3 separate regions of the Homo sapiens genome follow, and all the other regions are reported to be linked to region 2. The links are microRNA targets in miRTarBase. Many come from high-throughput screens and were not tested one by one. Region 2 holds a microRNA gene; each other region holds the end of a gene's coding sequence.
The links. The annotated mature microRNA hsa-miR-454-5p reads ACCCUAUCAAUAUUGUCUCUGC and lies in region 2 at 2,747-2,768, shown strand. An mRNA with a match to its seed (bases 2 to 7 or 8) in the 3' UTR can be bound and repressed. Matches are read on the target gene's strand: a 7mer-m8 pairs with bases 2 to 8, a 7mer-A1 pairs with bases 2 to 7 and ends in A, and an 8mer does both.

Region 1: miRTarBase lists KCNJ10 as a target of hsa-miR-454-5p. Seed matches in the 3' UTR shown: 7mer-A1 at 620-626.
Region 3: the mRNA of UCHL5 is a reported target of hsa-miR-454-5p. Seed matches in the 3' UTR shown: 7mer-A1 at 71-77.

The regions. Positions count from the first base shown.
Region 1 is chr1:160,037,746-160,042,101 of GRCh38, forward strand. KCNJ10 (potassium inwardly rectifying channel subfamily J member 10) reads right to left here. Exons shown (of 2, transcript NM_002241.5): 2 at 1-4,356. The coding sequence ends at 3,648. Among named protein-coding and RNA genes, the nearest start is that of PIGM, 7.9 kb to the left of the region's middle.
Region 2 is chr17:59,136,596-59,140,595 of GRCh38, reverse strand. MIR454 (microRNA 454) reads left to right here and starts at 2,724; the gene lies at 2,724-2,838. All of the region lies in intron 1 of SKA2 (spindle and kinetochore associated complex subunit 2), which reads left to right.
Region 3 is chr1:193,012,628-193,016,944 of GRCh38, forward strand. It overlaps UCHL5 (ubiquitin C-terminal hydrolase L5), which reads right to left. Exons shown (of 11, transcript NM_001199261.3): 11 at 1-3,768. The coding sequence ends at 3,724. Among named protein-coding and RNA genes, the nearest start is that of UCHL5, 45 kb to the right of the region's middle.

The DNA.
Region 1 (4,356 bases), not on the chromosome of region 2:
GGGCACAGTGTCCTGGACTTGTAGCAATAGTATAACTGGCTTTCTTTCTCTGCTCAGACCTTATAGGGAAACTACTGGATGATTTTATTAGGCTGACAGGGGTTGGGGGAATAATGGGGTGAAGCACATTGCAGAGATTTCGGAAGCCTCTCATGGAACTTCACCATCCCCTAGAGCAGCTGGTAACCCCACTCCTCATTTTCATTCAGAAGCATCAAAACCAAAGCATCACCCTCCATGCCCAAATGCCAGGATTGGAACTCTTCTGGAATCCATGGCTTTCTCTTTGGGCTGCTTGCAGCCACACAAAAGGCTGGGCCTTGACCTTGGGAGATCTTCAGCCTAACAGCTATTAGTCCTGGCATTTGGATTCCAGGGTTGAGGCTTCCCATTAGTGCCTCCCATACACCAAAGTGTTCAGCTCCTGAGTTTGATTTCAGGGGCTAGAGCAATAGCAGCTCCCACCCCTGTGGAAGACGGAAATACAGTGTACTTCATGAAAGGGAAACAAAATGGTGCTTTATTTTATTTTATTTATTTTAAAAAGGCGCTACAGTGGCAGGACGCTGCTGGGGATGGGGACACACAGTGTAAGTGGTAGATTTTCCAAGACTTCCCCTCCCTATTGTCCTCCGAGTTCCTCTCTTCCTGGTCCTATCAGTAGCATAGGATTCAACAAAAGCCTTCATGAATGCCTCTTTATTTCTGAAAAGGAACTTCTACCCCTCCCTTTCCCATTTCCAGACTTGAAATCCTTCATCAGCTATCTCACTTCCATGTTGAAACCAGGACCACTGATTGTAAGTCTGAAAATCTGGGTGTCCTACCCCATAACCAGGCCAAGATATCTGCCCCCAATGCTAAAGTCTCTGAATATTTCCTTTCTGTACATTCAATATATTTGGGCATATATACATCTATATACATCTTTCTATATATATATTATCTCTGTTTCTTTCTTCTTAGATAAACCTTTCATATATGTCATATCCTAATTTCCCAAGCCTCCCCACTTCTTGTTTGCGAGCCTAAGCAAGACTCAAGAGTTTCATTGATTTCACTAGGTCCCTCAGCATCATTTCTTTCTCATCTTCTCACCCCAGGTATCTTCCCCCATCAGTTGTTTCGCCCGTCTTCTGAAATCTCCCCTTTTTACACCTGTGCCTACCGAAATCTCCCCTTTTTACAACTGTGCCTACTACTCTGCTGATATTCCAAGTCCACAGTTGGTATGGGGGCCCATTTCTCACCAGACCTGGCTGCTTCTAAAGCTCGGCCTATTGCCTAAAAGAGGATTTCAGGTCAGAGGAGACAGACTATAGTCTAAAGAACCATTTAGAGTTAAGGTAGGGGGTAGTTGTTCCCTGTAGGGGGCTTGTGGGAGAAGATGCCAGATCGCATTAATAGGACAGTGTGATTTAAAGTGCAACTTAAAGCAAAGCCTGGGTAATAATGGAGGAGATTCCAAAAGGGTAAGTCAGAAAATGTTTTCTTCTCACTGTTTCATCCAAGAGTCTAGAGGCTTGAGTCTGGGGGCTTAGAATAGACAGCAGGGGAATGGGAAGAAAGCATAGCATGGCCAAATAAACCAGATGGAGGTTAACTTGGCAATGGATAGGAAGGTATAGACACACACACACACACACACACACACACACACACACACACACACACACACAGCAGTACATCTTGTCCCTACACACTGAAAGAAATAAGGTAAGTCTAATGTTGAATAAAGTTGAGAACGCAGAAGCTGGCTCTTGGCCTTCTGTTCTCTGTTTCAGATTTTTCAAGTTTTTGTGGTTCTTGTTTTTATGCCAACTAGAAGGTAATGGTGGGGTTTACTGTAGATGGACACCGAAGGGTCTTTGTTTTCAAGATATAGTTAGTTGAGTTCGAGGAGAGATCAATATAACAAGACCTTGTGCAATTATAGTTGGTGGTGATCATGGGTCTAGCCTCAAAATTTTGTGTTTCTCTGCAAGGCTCTGTACATAGATGCATGTATATATTCTGTAGCTTGTAACAATTGGCTGAGACCACCTTAAACTGCAACTTGACTTATAGTGGGACTATGCAGTACCACTATGTGAGGCTTCCTTGGTACCAAAGTGAGACCAGAAAGCACTCTAGGGATTTGGGGCTTTGGATAAAGCTCTGGTGCCTATATGCCCTTCCCTGACCCTTACCACAGACCCCACCAGGGAACAAGGAATAGGCTGAGTTTGATCTCTTAAAGTCTACTTTTTAACTTGTCTGAAAATGGCCTCATGGCAGAGGAGAGTAGAGATGACACTGATTTCTTCATTTTATACCAAGTCTCAGGAATGGCTGAGGGAAGCCATGGTTATTTGATCAGAAGGTATAATTTCATTTCCTTCCAGCATTGCCTAATGAAATAGCTGGCACTTTTCAGAAGGGCACTGGGAGGTGTAACTGAGAATAGTGGCTGCCAGCCACAGAGTTCTGCTCCTGCCCAAACCTTAACAAAGCATCACCAATTCTCAGAGGCTCTGTACAGCAGTTTGGAAATCTGAGAATTTACCCATCCCTCATGGTGGGATTGTGTTAACTTTCTGGGGAATCTGTGCCCTGTGAATCTAGTTTTACTTGAGCATCCGTGTTAAGAGAGGAAGGCCCTTGCATTTTCCCTCCCTTCTCCCAAAGAGTTGGGGTTAAGGAAGAAGGATCTAGGCTGAGCAGGAAAGGAAGAAGAGAAGCCAGGTACAGTGTAATCTGGAATATTATTTTCAGACCTTTCCATGGGGCCTGGGTACTGGACTCTTTTCAAAGGAACATATTGGCTTGGGTCCTTCCATTCACAGGACACAGGGAAACAGATCTTCTCTGGGCTGCCTGGAAGATAGGTTTAAAGGTTTAGATAACAACTTGTGTTAGTCACTCCAAATTGAAGAGTTCAGAATCCAGGATAGATATGGGTGGTTATATGTTTATGTTTCTTGGGCCAACTCCAATTCTCTGAGAACAGAGGCTATGAGGGAACTGGGTATCCTGAGAGTGTTCACTTGAGAAACTACAGAGGGAAAACAGTGGCGACCATGGTTCTAGCTTATGGTCAGAAGTCACCAGCAGAAATCAAGCTTCACAGTGGCAAACCCTGGCTTCTTTCAACAGAGATTGGTAGAAACCCTAGGATATGTTGATATCAGATTCCTGTATTTCTGAAAGCACAGACCACAAAGTGACCATCAGAGAGAGTCTTGCCTTTGGGAACTTGCTAGATGGAAAGGTAACAGAGGGAGCTCCAGCCTCAAGTCACCAAACTTCATGGTGGTGGTGGGAGGTAGGGGGCAGTCTATCCTTCCAACCACATGGTCCTCCTAATGTGAGTATCCAAGCATGGCTGAGGCCTTCTAAGCCACTTCAGCCTAATCCCACTCTTTCCCCCATCCTGGCTTAAGGGAGGTATGTGTATTGGGGCAGAAGCTGGGGAAGTGGAAAGGGGACAGTGGGAGGCGAACCTGGACTCCAGTTGGCCTAAGCTACCAACAGGCCACTGGGTTAAAGAAGAGGGAGTGGAGGATGGGTGCTTCGGGGGATCTCCAGTAAACCCGGGTAGTATTCCTTACCAGGGCATTGGAAGAGAGGAAAAGAGACCAGAGGAATGGGGGAGTGGGAACAGGTCATCAGACATTGCTGATGCGCACACTAAGGGCACTGCCCTCCTTCTCAGCTTGCTCCCTTAATGACTCCTCCAACTTGAGCTTTTCAGGGTCTCCGTAGCGTACAGTGCTGTCACGGAGGCCACTAGGAGAGGCCACTTTCACAACTTGGTCAAAAAGGCTAAAGTCAGCTATGTATTTACCACTGGCTGACAGTGAGATGGCAGGTGTGAACTCGTAGCCCCAAAGGATCTCCTCTGGCAGGTAGGAAGTGCGCACCTGACAGGTGGCACTGGTGGACTCCACTGTCCCACTTAGGATCAGCACCAGCTCAAAGTCACCCTCACCACTGCGAAGAGGGAGATCTTTCAAGGGACTGGTCTCATCTACCACATGATAGAAGGTAAGGGGTAGAATAAGGAAGGGGCTGTCAGAGGCTGTGTCTACTTGGAAAGTCACATTGACCTGGTTGAGCCGGATGTTCTCCCCTTCCTTGGTTTGGTGGGTCTGAAGCAGTTTTCCTGTCACCTGGCAGCCAATGAGGAGGCTTTTGCGCATATTGGCAACTCGGATCATGAGGCAGGGCTTGCCATTGTGGGAGGCCACAACTGCATGCTGGCTGAAACGAATGGTCTCAGCCCGCTTCTTGGGCCGGGCAATCTTCGCCAGGAAGGTACCTGTGATGAAGATTTCCAGGATGGTGGTGAGCACCAGCTGGGCAATAAGAAGCACA
Region 2 (4,000 bases):
CTAGCCTTTTAGAGGCAGGGGCTTATGTATATATCCTAGCAATTGTTCCATAAAAGCCTGCAGATTGGGCCGGGCGCAGTGGCTCACACCTGTAATCCCAGCACTTTGGGAGGCTGAGGCAGGCGGATCACCTGAGGTCAGGAGTTCGAGACCAGCCTGGCCAACATGGTGAAACCCCGTCTCTACTAAAAATACAAAAATTAGCCAGGCATGGTGGCAGGTGTCTGTAATCCCAGCTACTCGGGAGGCTGAGGCAGGAGAATCGCTTGAACCCAGGAGGCTTGAACCCAGTGAGCTGAGATCGTGCCATTGCACTTCAGCCTGGGGGACAAGAGCGAGACTTCATCTCAAAAAAAAAAAAAAGCTTGCAGATTGGGAACTGATGAACCTGAAGCCCTTGCTCACTTTTATCCCCTCTGGTTGCCAATTGCCTGAAATAACATGTCTGTGACCTGGTGTTAGGGCATGTTACTGCTTATCTGTTTTGGACAAGCATAGTCATGCATTTGTTCTGTTTGGAAGAGAGAATGGGTAATAGTCAATACTTTCTCCAGCAGAAAAAGGCAAAAACCAATTTTGATTGTGGAGACATGATATAAGTGGTCCTTAGCTTGCTGGGAACTTGAAATATTTCCCTTAAAACGTGTTTTAAAGGGTAGTTGGGTTCCCAGGTGGTTTGTTCTTTCAAATGAATGAATGTTTGTTCTTTCATCTATTCCCTTTTGTCACTGCACATTAGGCTGTATATTAAAAACTAAGGATACAAAAAAGCGATCTCTTGCCAGGAAGATGTTTGAAACCATGTGGCGACATTACCATGTAAACATAGATTAAAATATAATACAGTAGATGGTAAACCAAAGCCATGAACAAAGTAAAAGGAGAGTAGATAAAGGTGTTTCTAAATGTACATTGAAGAGAAGAAAATGTACAAAAAGTAGATTCTGGCCGGGTGCAGTGGCTGACACCTGTAATCCTAGCACTTTGGGAGGCCAAGGCGGGCAGATTACGTGAGCTCAGGATTTCGAGACTAGCCTGGGCAACATAGTGAGCACTCATCTCAAAAACAAAAAAAATTTAAAAATAAAAATAAAAGTAGGTTTTTTGATTATAGCCAAACTAGTTCCATTAAGATACTTAATTCTCCCTTAAAATGTTTCTATGGAAAATGCATTTCTTTTTTTTTTTTTTTTTTTTTTGAGACGGAGTCTTGCTCTGTTGCCCAGGCTGGAGTGCAGTGGCGCCATCTCGGCTCTCTGCAACCTCTGCCTCCCAGGTTTATGCCATTCTCCTGCTCCAGCCTCCCGAGTATCTGGAACTATAGGCATCCACCACCATGCCCAGCTAATTTTTTGAATTTTTAGTAGAGACGGGGTTTCACCGTGTTAGCCAGGATGGTCTCAATCTCCTGACCTCGTGCTCCGCCCGCCTCAGCCTCCCAAAGTGCTGGGATTACAGGCGTGAGCCACTGCGCCCAGCCGGAAAATGCATTTCTAAGCCTGTTTAGTAAGTCCAGAACACACCTGTCTACCAACTCTTCTCTATGCCTAGCCCACCATAGGTGAGACTGAAATACTTTTTTTCACTTTATGTAATTTAATGCTGTTGAGATAAGGTCTCTCATAAGAGGATGTGTTTAGAGCTTTAAGGGCACTGGTCCTTTGTAGGAGAGCATACGGTGGCAATGAGAATCTAGGGGTTGTTTGTAAAAAGCAAGTGTTTTAAAACTGAGGACCACACAGTATATTGTGACAACCGCAATATATTCTTTTCTCCTTGCTGCCTAATAGTTGAGTAGTATGGAATACCTTGTGCCACTTACTTAAAGCCTTAAACTGGTCATATTGAAAACTAGACTAGAACAGGCTGGGCGCGGTGGCTCATGCCTGTAATCCCAGCACTTCAGGAGGCCGAGGCGGGCAGATCACTTGAGCTCGGGAGGTCAAGACTAGTCTGGGCAAAATGGTGAAACCCCATCTCTACCAAAAATACAAAAAATTTACTAGGCGTTGTGGCGTGTGCCTGTAGTCCCAGCTAGTCGGGAGGCTGAGGCATGAGAATTGCTTGAGCCTGGAGGCAGAGGTTGCAGTGAGCTGAGATTGCGCCACTGCCCTCCAGCCTAGGCAACAGAGTGAGACGCTGTCTCAAAAAATAACAAACAAACAAAACAACTGGTTGAGCATCCCTAATCCAAAATTCCAAAATCTGAAATGCTCCAAAATCCAAAATTCATTGGACCATTTCAGATTTTGAATTTTCAGATTAGGGATGCTCAACCAGTAATTATTATGCAAATATTCCAAAATAGGAGGAAAAAATCAGAAATCTAACTGGCAGAATGTAACCTGGTTTCCCTTGGGGTGCTTTCATGATGATTTCCATAGACTTTTTTCACCTAATTTTGTATTTTATATACCACTTTTCAGATCAGTATAAAACTTTTCCCCTTTATTTTTATTACTGATTTTAGAGAAAACTGGTTTCTGAAATACGAATATCTTGGGCTTTACAAAAATCACTAGTTTTATTTTAAATATTCCATTGCCCCTAAAAAGTTAAACAATAACCTCACTGATTTCCAAGGCTTCCAGGAGGCTGATTTGTAACTGAAAGGGCTGTGAATGATGTTTATCAGAATCAAATTTGCGCGATTTATCAGACACTAATGAGTTTTAGATTATCATAATTGCTTAGTGAATTTCTGCCATCTAACTAAAAAAAATTCTGTTTATCACCAGATCCTAGAACCCTATCAATATTGTCTCTGCTGTGTAAATAGTTCTGAGTAGTGCAATATTGCTTATAGGGTTTTGGTGTTTGGAAAGAACAATGGGCAGGCTGCAGAAAGTATGTAGCAGAAACAAGCAAAAGTCATCTTTAGGAAGAAAACAAGGAACTAGATTTCACTATAAACATTAAAATCTGAGGCTTAAATGTAAATTTTTAATTTATTAGAAGAAGGTAACTTTTCTTTTTGACAAATGGGTTTATTTGTAGTATAAAGAAATAATGGAATTTTAGTATTGAAAAGGATCTTAGATTCCAACTCATTTGATAGGAGAGACCCAAAGAAATGAGGGACTTAACCTAGGGACACATAGCTGGTTAGTGATACTAGGACTAGAATTTCTACCATGTATCCGAATTCTTTTATTTTTCTGTACCATACTACCATGTTGTGTTCAGAGGGAATTTTTAGTTGACTAGCTTTGTAACTTTAGTGATATTAATTTAAAACATAAAAAAACTTTAATTTTAGGTGAAGAATGTACATTTTTGGATGGGTGTGGTGGCTGACACCTGTAGTTCCAGCACTTTGAGAGGCTAAGGCGGGAAGATTGTTTGAGCTCAGGAGTTCAAGTCCAGCCTGGGTAACATAGCGAGACCTTGTCTCTACAAAAAAATACAAAAATTAGCTGGGTTTGGTAGTGCACGTCTGTAGTCCCAGCTACTCAGGAGGCTTAGGCAGGAGAATCAAATCTCTTGAGTCCAGGAGGTTGAGGCTGCAGTGAGCTGTGATTTGTGCCACTGCACTCGCCTGGGCAACAAAGCAAGACCCTGTCTCAAAAAGAAAAAAAAGAATTTACATTTTTTCCACATGTGTGACTCTTAATGGCTTAAATATCATCTATAACTTTGTCTAACTACATAAGAAAACAGTAATGGAAATAGAACTAGAGGCAAGTTACTTTGCTATTTTCTCATTTATAAAATGAAGGGTTCAGAGCAGACATTTAAGATGATTTTTCGGCTGGGCGTGGTAGCTCACACCTGTAATCCCAGCATTTTTGGAGGCCGAGGAGGGCGGATCACAAGGTCAGGAGATCAAGACGAGCCTGGCCAACATGGTGAAACCCTGTCTGTACTAAAAATACAAAACTTAGCTGGGTATGGTGGTGCACGCCTATAGTCCCATCCGCTCGGGAGGATGAGGCAGGAGAATCGCTTGAACCCGGGAAGTGGAGGTTGCAGTCAGCCAAGATTGTGCCACTGCACTCCA
Region 3 (4,317 bases), not on the chromosome of region 2:
CTTAAAGTACATCTCATTAATGGGATCTTCCATGACCATTCTATCAAACCTCAGCTCCTCCCACCCCTTTTCCCTATTTTTTTTACCATTCATACTACTATTTGAAAAGTTGTATTACATACTTATTATCTGTCTCACCATGAGAGCAGGGGCTTTTTCCTGTTATACTATCCTCTAGCATCTAGAACAACTCAGATGTACCTCATAAGATTGGCTGAATAAATCACTGAATAGTTTTCAAAAAGTTAATGTAATCAAGTCAAAAATAAAAAGTGCCCAGTATGCTAGAAGTGGTGAATCTTTACCATGTCAGTCATTGGATTTAGGCCAGTTAACAATATACTAAAGAACAAACTAAATAACATGCATGTTTGACTGATCTAGGAATTCATACTACTCTAAAAAACGCAGTATCATTCTAAAAATATAACTATCCAGTTTGTCTGTTTTAGGCATTTAGGCATAGAAGGTTTAACTTTTCTGCATTCCAGTGCACAGTCATTAAGTGTTACAGCAGGTTCCTCATTCCTTGAACACAACTACTGCAACATGTTCTAACATTAATAGTTCCAACAGTGAACTCCCTGACTGTTGCAAAAGTGAGCAGTTCCCTAGGTACACCAATACTGTATGTTTGGATGGGAGTAATCTCTGGAGACTTAAGCTTGAAACCGCTCCTCCAAACCTTCCAATGATTTTGTAAGAAACTATGTAGTTTCAAAACTCCCAATATAAATCTGCATTCCTCTTCAAATAGCTAGAGTGGTTTGTTTCCTGAAAATTTGTATATGATCAAGTTTAAAAATAATATAAACTTCATAGAACTATTTCAGACTATGGGGAGGGCAAGCAAGACTAACACACAAAAACATATGTGTACACATGAGGAAAAAGGATCACTAAATACATAAAATGTTAATGTGCTCATCCCTGTAAATAGAAATATGGTAATTTAAATTTTATTTTTACTTATCTGTTTTCTCTAAATGGTTTTTGAGGAGAATACATTAAAAGCCCTTTTTTTCCCTCAAATAAACAAAATCCTCCTACAGGATAAAAATATCTAAATGCATCTTGAAATGTTAACGTTACAGGCAACTAGGAGGATTAATTGAAAGTATTAATCTGCATGTAACACCATAATATACACACAAATATGTACCATGGTCCTAACTGGGGGAGCAAGTCCCCGTGGTTGTGATTCCCGAGCAAATATTTGTCTGTTTTAGTGGCACAGTCGAGCTGACTGCTGTTCGGAAAAGGGCAAGCTATCTTGGGAACTAAACATATAAGGTGAGAGTAGCCAGTGCCGCAGCTGTTGGCAAGGTTTTTGTTGATAATAACAGAAGTACATCCCTTAGAATTGGCTATTTTGAAGGCTTAAAATAGAATGGAAGCGACTTCACCTACCCAATAATTAAATAAAATTTTAGAAAAGACTAAATATGAAATGAGCAAGATTTTCTATAAAATATCATTTAAAAAAAACTTTCCAAATAGCATTTATCTATTTATGGGTTGCTCTTTATTCTTCCATTTTCTCTACCCTCTAGCTTCATGACTTAATTTCAAACCAGCAACATATAGCACCCAGACAAGTCACACTTCTTTATTCACAGACAGAAGTAATCATGAAGTATCACAAGGGATTTGCAATCACCAAAGAAGATGCAGATAAAATAAACCACTCTTAAGCTATGGAAATTCCTATTAAGGAATTTTATTAGATTAATAAGAAAAATCCTTATACCTATTAATATAGTCATTTTACAAGGATATTTTTCAAATGTCATTTGATATTACTTTTGTTAACACTTTCAATGACAATTCTGATGAGCTCTAATTTTGGATCTTTTATGGTTACTGCTTTCTGTGACCTAAGAAACCTTTGGCTAACCCCCCAAGTCACAAAAATATCATCTGTTTTCAGTTAAAAAGCTTCATACTTTTAAAATATTACATTTAGGTCTATGATTCATCTCAAAGTCATTTTTGTGAGGTAGGGGGTCATTGTTCACTTTTTTCTATATGGATATTCAGCTATTCTATTCTGGCTCCATTTGTTGAAAAGACTTTCCTTCTCTGTTGAATTGTTTTGCCACCTTTGTCGAAATCAAGTGATCATATAAACGTTGATCTGTTTTCAGGCTCTCTCTTCTGTTCCATTGCTTTATTTGTCAATCCTAGTGCCAGTATCACACTGTATTGATTACTAAATACAACTTACCACAATAATCCTCACATTGCTTAACAAAATTTAAGCCTCAATAGGAAAGAATATATAAATTAAGCTGAAATAAACGAATGAGATCAAGATGAGCCTTCCTTAAAAATCTATTTTTAAAAATTATATCATGGCTTTGAAAACACTCCATAATTATTACTGTATCAACAGCAAAACATATTTACCCACAAATAACTGAGAGACTACATATTTTCCATTACCTCCAACTGAAATTATGTATGAAAAATATTTCATTCGTTTTTCTATCAATTTCCTATCAGGTTTTTCTCCATTAGTTCTAAGTCATTTAATACCACAATTACTAAGCTTAAAAACAATCCTTAAAAATGTGCTGAAGCTGGAAGATGGGTACACATTCTCCCTAATAAAATAAATTATGCTAAATTGATTTTACAATAAATAATAAAATGTTAAAGTCATGTATCAACCTCAGAAATATTCTTGATAAAGAAAAAAGTAGGTTACTTCCTTTAAAAAAGAAAGCTTTATAAAGTCTTCTTTAAAGTCTGACTTGCAAAGGAAGATTAGAAGCAGAAGATTATTACAAAGCAACTCCCAAATCAATTTTTAAAAATCAATTGTGAGCAAATTACATATGGCTCTTGAAAACTGCAGGCTGTACGAAATTTATTCAAATTGGCATAGAAAGACCCCCATCACCACTACCATCTTTTTAAAAAAGCAGATAACATGAACTGTCAGACCTCCAGTTTTTTTATACACAGCTTACAAGCTTGAAACAATATTCCATTGAGAGTAACACCAACATTCTTTAAGATTTACAATTTCTTCTTAACCTGAAATTTTGCTTTGAAGCATAATACTCAGACCTTCCTGAAACAATTCTCTAATACATAAACAAATAACCCCAAACACTTGAAGAAAATTTACTAAAATAAAATTGAGATGTTTATTACTTTTCTACTGACAGCAGTGAAAATCACTGGAAATTATACTTTTGTCCTTTTTAAATGATTTACATTAAAATCATACTTTCTCAAATAACTGGTATAGCAGATAAAATTCAGTTTTAAAATCCTCAAAACACTTAGATATCAAAGATAGAAATACTGATTTTTTTTCCGTTAATGATGAGAAGAAATAAGACAACCAGTTTAATCAAGATCTGACAATTGCAAATTTTAAGTATTTAAATTACAGATAAGGAATATCGTTTGTGCATTTTCTAGCTTCATATGGTAGTTAGACAACCAGAAAACTAACAGTTGTCAGACTCAATGTCAAATAATGGAATTTGGGAAAGCATTCTTAATATCACTTTCATTTAATATGCACTACATGCACATGATGCAGGTAGGGAAGAAGTTTATGAATCCATGCATTAAAGACAAGACAGGCTGGCACTATTGCCAAACGTGCACTGAGCCAATTAGGATGTTGCTCTAAGTTCTTTATACATAATGGTTTCCATGAAAATATGTGCAGAAGCAGAAATGTGTACATATCTGAAAACATCTTCATTTGGTTTCCTGAGCTTTCTTTGCGTTCTGTTTTTCTTTTGCCTAAAAATTAAAAATAGTATGTTACAAAATTTTAAAAGTCAGTTTTAGACTATATTAGAATAAAATGTGCCTAAGAGGGTATTCTCAAGCTGAAAGGCTTGAAATACATTGTTTATAAGACTTCTAAAGCATTATGTTTTATAACTTGAGACTTATAACAAACTTTTCCTGGACAATTACATAGTTATTCTTTGCCCTAAGAAAGGATCATGTTTGGTTTGCAGTTCTTTCCTATCTGAAGGTGAAATGAATTATTATAATTGTAATAATTTAAAAATTCCATAAAGTCAAACTCATTCATGAGTATTCCAAAACAATATATATACACATATTTGCCCATTTCCTATTCACATGAGCATAAGAAAAATCTTACATTAGTTTCTGCAAATGTGAATAAATGAGTTTAACATAACAGTTTAAGTGACTTTAACATAATGTCACTAAAGGATTATGTATCCTTGGTGTCAACAAACTTTATTTATATGACCTAAAAAAAAATGTTTTTACATACTAGTTCAATAGATCTTCATTACAATTATATAGCTTGAA